2 separate regions of the Homo sapiens genome follow, and region 2 is linked to region 1. Evidence: fine-mapped expression QTL. A gene starts in region 1. The other region holds a variant in brackets. All regions are shown on one strand. Distances are between the middles of the regions.

Evidence for each region. PIP is the estimated chance that this variant, and not a neighbour inherited with it, causes the effect.
Region 2: its variant is the best candidate, but not a certain one, in a credible set for the expression of SEPTIN5 in unexposed skin (GTEx, PIP 0.89).

The regions. Positions count from the first base shown.
Region 1 is chr22:19,712,768-19,715,663 of GRCh38, forward strand. It overlaps SEPTIN5 (septin 5), which reads left to right and starts at 1,736. Exons shown (of 12, transcript NM_002688.6): 1 at 1,736-1,864; 2 at 2,014-2,024. The coding sequence starts at 1,822. LOC124905079 (a long non-coding RNA gene) reads right to left here and starts at 2,028. Exons shown (of 2, transcript XR_007068003.1): 1 at 1,930-2,028.
Region 2 is chr22:19,687,251-19,690,146 of GRCh38, forward strand. No RefSeq gene overlaps it. Among named protein-coding and RNA genes, the nearest start is that of SEPTIN5, 26 kb to the right of the region's middle. RefSeq lists an enhancer at 888-1,736. The variant G/A (reference allele first, on the strand shown) is at 1,620.

The DNA of each region.
Region 1 (2,896 bases):
GGTGCGATCTCGGCTCACTGCAACCTCCGCCTTCTGAGTTCAAGTGATTCTCCTGCCTCAGTCTCCTGAATAGCTGGGACTACAGGCATGTGCCACCATGCCTAGCTAATTTTTTGTATTTTTAATAGACGGGGTTTCACCGTGTTAGCCAGGATGGTCTTGATCTCCTGACCTCAACACACATTTCTTTATCGAAATTCCAAATTCTCCAAAGCTCAGAAACATAAAGGTTTTTCAAAACTCAGTGGCAAAGCTGGACCTGAACGATGCGCCATCACTTACTGTCTTTATTTCTTCCAGTTCACCTGAATACATATGTTTTGCCCCGAAAATATAAATGGGTCTGATTATGAGGAGCAGCCCCAGGTTCCAAAGAGGTGCCACATAATGTATGATGTATACAAAAAAGCCTGAGTTCCAAACACATCTTGGATGAGAGGTTGGGACTGTGGGGGATCCCTACACTGGTTAGAGTTCTAGACCCAGAGCAGGGTTATGGTCAACGGCGCTCTGGCCACAGAATGCAGCAGAGCAAGGACTGTGGAACAAAGACGCGGCTTACATGAATTTTTCACTTACCGTGCTGGGTGCTGGTGATTCAGAGATGGAAAGGCCCTAGCGACACCCCCCTCCACCCAGGGAGCCCACGGGCCAGCAGAGGGACCAAGGGGCACAGGACGGGTGGGGAGCAGAGGCGGATTCCCTGGCTGTGGAGGTACTGTCTATACGGGGTGCAGGAGACATCTCCATACAAGGGGGCCCTCACCTGGGGAGGTGGTGACCGCAAGCCTGACAGCCCCAAAGCCTTCAGAGATGCCGCCTGGGGACACTTTGGGAAAGTCCAGGCGGAGGACACCTGGGAATGTGATAGTGACACAAATGACCGGAGAGACTTGCTCTCAGTCACTGAGTCTGGCTGACTCACTGAAGATTAGGGCCTGAACTTCCCCCTCTGTAAATGGGGTGCAGGCCCTGGCCCTGCCTTCACAGTGCCCCTCGGTCCCCTACAAGCCTTCTCCGCAGGGTGGGATCGGGTCTGCCTGGAGCATCCCCACAGCCTATGGGTCAGCAGAGAAGCAGGCGCAGAGCTGGGGTGAGACGGTCAGGGCCGGTCCTGCCAGACACCTCAGATCACTCCTCTTCACAAATAATCCCATTTTACAGCCCAGGAAGAGAGAGGCCGGACCACTGCCCAAAAGCCTGTGGCCTACAGCCTGCCAGGTGCGTCTGCTCGCAGAGCAGGTCTGCGCAGCACCGAGCGGTCAGCAGGGGCAATGCTGGGCACTGGCCAGCCGCGCCAGGACCATCCCTGCTGACCTCGGCGGGGTGGGGCGGAGCGTGCAGGGTCTGGCCCGGAAAGCCAGGGCAGGCTTTAGAGAAGGGCCACCGGACGGATGGTCCGAGGACCGGCATGGACCCGGGTCCCAGCGAGGGCGGGGGGAGCGTAAGGCTGGGCCTGGGCTGCGGCACCGGGGAGGTGGCGGGGAGGAGGCCGGCAGGAACAGCCGTGCAGGGCGGGGGCGGCGCGGGTCTGGTCGGGTGACCCCGGGCGCGGCCAGGGCTGTAGGAGGCGAGGGCGTCGCCCCGAGGCCGTGGTCTCGGGTCCATGGTGGGGGACCTGGGTCCCCGCCCCCCCGGGCCGCCCTGGGTCGCGCGTGGGCGCGGCGGGCGCCGATTGGCTGCCGGGCGCGCGGGCGGAGCGGGCGGCGGCGGCGGCGGCGCGGAGGGGCCGCTCACCCCGCAGCCCGGCCTCGGCCTCCGCCGCTTGTCGTCGCGCCCCGCCCGCGAGCCCGCCCCGCACGTCCCCCGCCGGCGGCCACCATGAGCACAGGCCTGCGGTACAAGAGCAAGCTGGCGACCCCAGGTGAGCCCAGCGCCTGCCCGCGTGCCCGCGCGCGCCTTTGTCCCCGCCGCCCGCGCGCCTCTCACCGTGTCTCTCCGTCTCTCCCCCGCCCGCCGGCCCGGACCCGCTCGGAACCGGACCCGGACTCGACCCCGACCCCGACCCCGCAGAGGACAAGCAGGTACGTGCGCAGCGCCGCTCCCCCGCCGGGAGACCCGGCCGGCTGTCACCCATTGTGACACTAGCGCCTTGGGCGCCCAGGCGCGACCCCGCCCCCGCCGGCCCTCACCCAGCCCTGTCGCGATCACCGATTGTCAGCCGGGCAGTGCCGCCGCGCCTGGGGCTTCAGAGGAGAGGAGTGGGGGCCCTGGTCCCCGGACCCGCACAGCAGGGACCCTGCGCCCCTCCCCAGGATGGGGGGATGGGCAGAGTGTCCCCCTCCCACAGGGCCAGTGCCAGCATCTCCTGCTGACCTGGCCTGTAGGCCATGAGCTGGGGGTCCTGGGTGAGGCCATGGTCGTGGCAGGCCACGCTGGGGGAGGGGAGTCAGGCTCCATCAGCCAGCACAGTCCCTGAACAGCCCTACAGCAGAGGGCCTGTGGTCACCACCCACCTCCCCTGCACCTTCATGCCCCTTTCCCTCCCCATACACAAATTTGAGTGTTCAGGTCTGCAACAGGGACTCTTCCCCAGATTGGGAACCCCCAGGGTCTGGTCTGAGTCATTCTGGGTGCCCAGATGGGTCCTGGGACCCTGTGGGTACAAATAGGCTTGTGGCTTCTCAAAAGGGTTGGCCCCACCCTCCAGGAAAGCAAGACTGGACAGGAGGCTGGTCTAGGCACCTGGGTGAAACCCAGCCGAGCTCAGGGTTAAACAATGCTGTGAGGCCCCTGGGGTGGGGCGGGGGCTGACAACCAGGTGGGCTGGGGGGGCTGGGGAAAGCCTGCTGGTGTCCTCTCTGGCTTGAGCTCAGCCATCTTTGGAGGAAAAAAGAAGAGCCCAATTCTGGCACCAGGGTGGCACTGGCAGCCCCCATCAGGGATGGAGTTTCTC
Region 2 (2,896 bases), 26 kb before region 1:
CATAACAGGCAGTCATGTGTAATTTGGGTCACGTAGAACAAGTCTGGATCATGAAGTCTGTGAGGCTGGTGTACACTTAACTGAGAGTGTGTCTAGCTTTAAACCGGTATCTGCATTTAAAAAAAAAAAAAAAGGCAGAGTCGGGGGCCACTCTCAGAGAGCACTATTAGGTGCTCACCGGCAGAACCCAGACATTGCATTTTCAAAGCTTTTAAGCTTTTCAGCTGCACTCTGAGGAACCGGCTATTGATCTGTGTCCTTGGTGCACAGCCCTTGCACTTCTTTCTGCCCCCACGCCCTGCGGCCCCTCTCGGCTCTGAACAGGGGCCCTGCTCTCTGGGACTCCACATCCCTGCAAAATTTGTCTCCCCTTCCCTGGGTTCCTCCCCCGGGGCTGAGCTGAGGACAAGGGCCTGGCCTCCTCCTTGGAGAACCCCACAGCACCCTGCATTTCGGCGTGGTCCATGGGCTCTTCTCAGGGGCTCCTCACGTTGTGCAAAGGGGTAAGGGAGCAGGGCCAGCTGCAGATCTCCCTCCCGCTGTGACAAGGACATCCTAGTCGAAGAGCCCGTTTATCTTCGCTCTTAAGGCCAGGCTCTCTCAGGTCATTGTTGCCAAAGAAATGAATTGCAGCACAGCTCCGCAGGTCCCTGCACAACTGGGGCAAGGGCTGGCACTGGGCCAGCGGGAACCTGTTGGGGAGGCTGCAAGGTGCTTCTCTGCATCCAAGGCTGCCACACCCTGTGCACACTGTGGAGCTGGGTGGATGGGGTGTGCTCAGGAGGGGCTCTCGGCCCTCGGCTGGGAGTCAGAGGCGTGGTGGGTGGGGCGGGGAGGGGTGTCACAGCTGCAGGGCAGCCTTGATGTCTGCACTTGGCTTTTTAATTTGTAGTCACAGCCAACAAGTGTGGAAACCGCCTCAGGACCGGCTTGAGTGGAGCGGCTGCGGGAGTTACTTCATGACTGTGGTCTCACGCTGTGTTTCGCCACCCATCCCTGCCTGGCCTGGCTTCCTTCCTTCCTCCTGGGTACGTTGGCCCTTGGCTCTCTCCTCATTAACTGGCCCCTCGGACCCCGGCTGGCCAGCTGTCTGCAGCCTCCTGGGTGACACCTTCACCCCTGCCTCCTCGGGGGTCTGCTGCCGCCACATCAATCTCCCTAACACCCTGGGCATGCCACCCCTCTGGAGACCTCCCTAGTCTCTCTCGCAGGGCCCCCAACCTGCTCAGCCCAGGCCCACTGCCCTCTCCCTGCCCGGACACGTGCTCCCGTGGCCCGGCCGTGCCTGCCCACACACCTGCCCTCTCTGAGGTTCACATGTGGCATCCAGGGGCCCTTCCCCAACAGCTCTGCCTGGTGCAGCCTCCCCCTCAGCCTCCTCTTCCCCCCGAGCAGGGTTTGCAGAGGCCCAGAGGCTGCCGGGATGAGTAGATGTTGGGATCCTGCTTACTGGGCGTGTCTTATCCCCCAGAGCAATGGCCTTGGAGGTCAGGGACCCAGCATGGCCATGCTGGCTTGGGGTTTAGGAGCTGTCTCACCAGAGCCCCGCCTCAGCCCACAGCCCCGGGCCTGTTTCCTTGAAGGCTCCCCAGAGCCCCATGCCTGGTTTTCTGGCCAGA[G/A]CCCTTGGCAGTGACCCCTGCTCTCCGCCTGCAGCTCTGGGCGTCCTCTCAGCCCCAAGCCCTGATAGGTGCCCCCTGTCTCTGTGCCTGCAGCCTTCAGGAGTGGCCCACACATTGGCTTTTATCTCTGGGCTCTCTGTCACCTCCTCTCCCTCCTGCCACCCTCTGCTCACAGGCTGCGGGTGTGGGGCATCCAGGAGCTGGCCGGTGGAAAGAGGAGCAGGTGCCCTTACGCAGTGGGGAGCAGACACACTTGTGCTGCTTTTCCCTTGGGGCTTGGGGTGGCCACTGGGGCAGGACATGAGGACAGACCAGCCCTCGTCCCCCCAGTGCAGGGGGCAGATCTCACTGCCAGGTGAAACCCTGCTGACCATCCATGTGGACCCCTCAGCTTGGCTGGATGCAGGAGGTGGTTGCACAGTTGCAGGTGGGGCATGGAGGGAGTGGAGCAGCCCCTTACCCCAACACAGGCCCCATTCCTGCTTAACCGGATGTTCCGAGGAGAAGCACAGCCCAACAGGTGTGCACAGGAAGCTCCCATCAGTGCTGTCCTGGGAAAGGCCCATCCTGAATGAAGTGTGTTGCTCAGATCCGAAGAGCGCTGCATCTTCACAGGTCAGGGTGGAAACCTCCTGGTGCACGGCCCGGGAGGGGCACCCGTGGCAGGGCCAGCCCCTGTGAGGCTGCACAGATGAGCTCGAGCAGAGAGTCTGGGGCCGGCCACATCCCACGTCCGACCCTGAGCTGGGGCCCTGGGGGAGCCCCTGTGGCTTTCGTACCAGCCACGCCTGTATGTAGAGAGCTGAGTGTCTGCTGTGGAAGACCACGAGTCACATGGCAGACATGGGCACTCGGCCCAGGCGATGCTGACCCATCCATCAGCTCCTACAGGACCACAAGCTCCCGTTGTGGTGGCCAGAGACTCCCAATGGCCACAGACCCACTCAGGGCTCTCTCTGGGGTCTTCCGGAGAAAAGGAAAGCTCAATGAGCTCCTTAAACCTTTCACTTCAAGTTGTTGCTTTTAAACATTTTGCTTCGTGGCCTTTCTTGCTCCTTCTGTAAAAATCTACATTGTGCTACCATTTTTTTTTTTTTTTGGCAAGGTGTCACTCTGCCACCCAGGCTAGAGTGCAGTGCTGTGATCATGACTCACTGTAGCCTCAAACTCCTGGGCTCAAAGGATCCTCCAGCCTCAGCCTCCCAAGTAGCTGGGACTACAGGTATATCCCACAGCATCCAGCTAATTTTTTGAAAATTTTTTTGGTAGAGATGAGG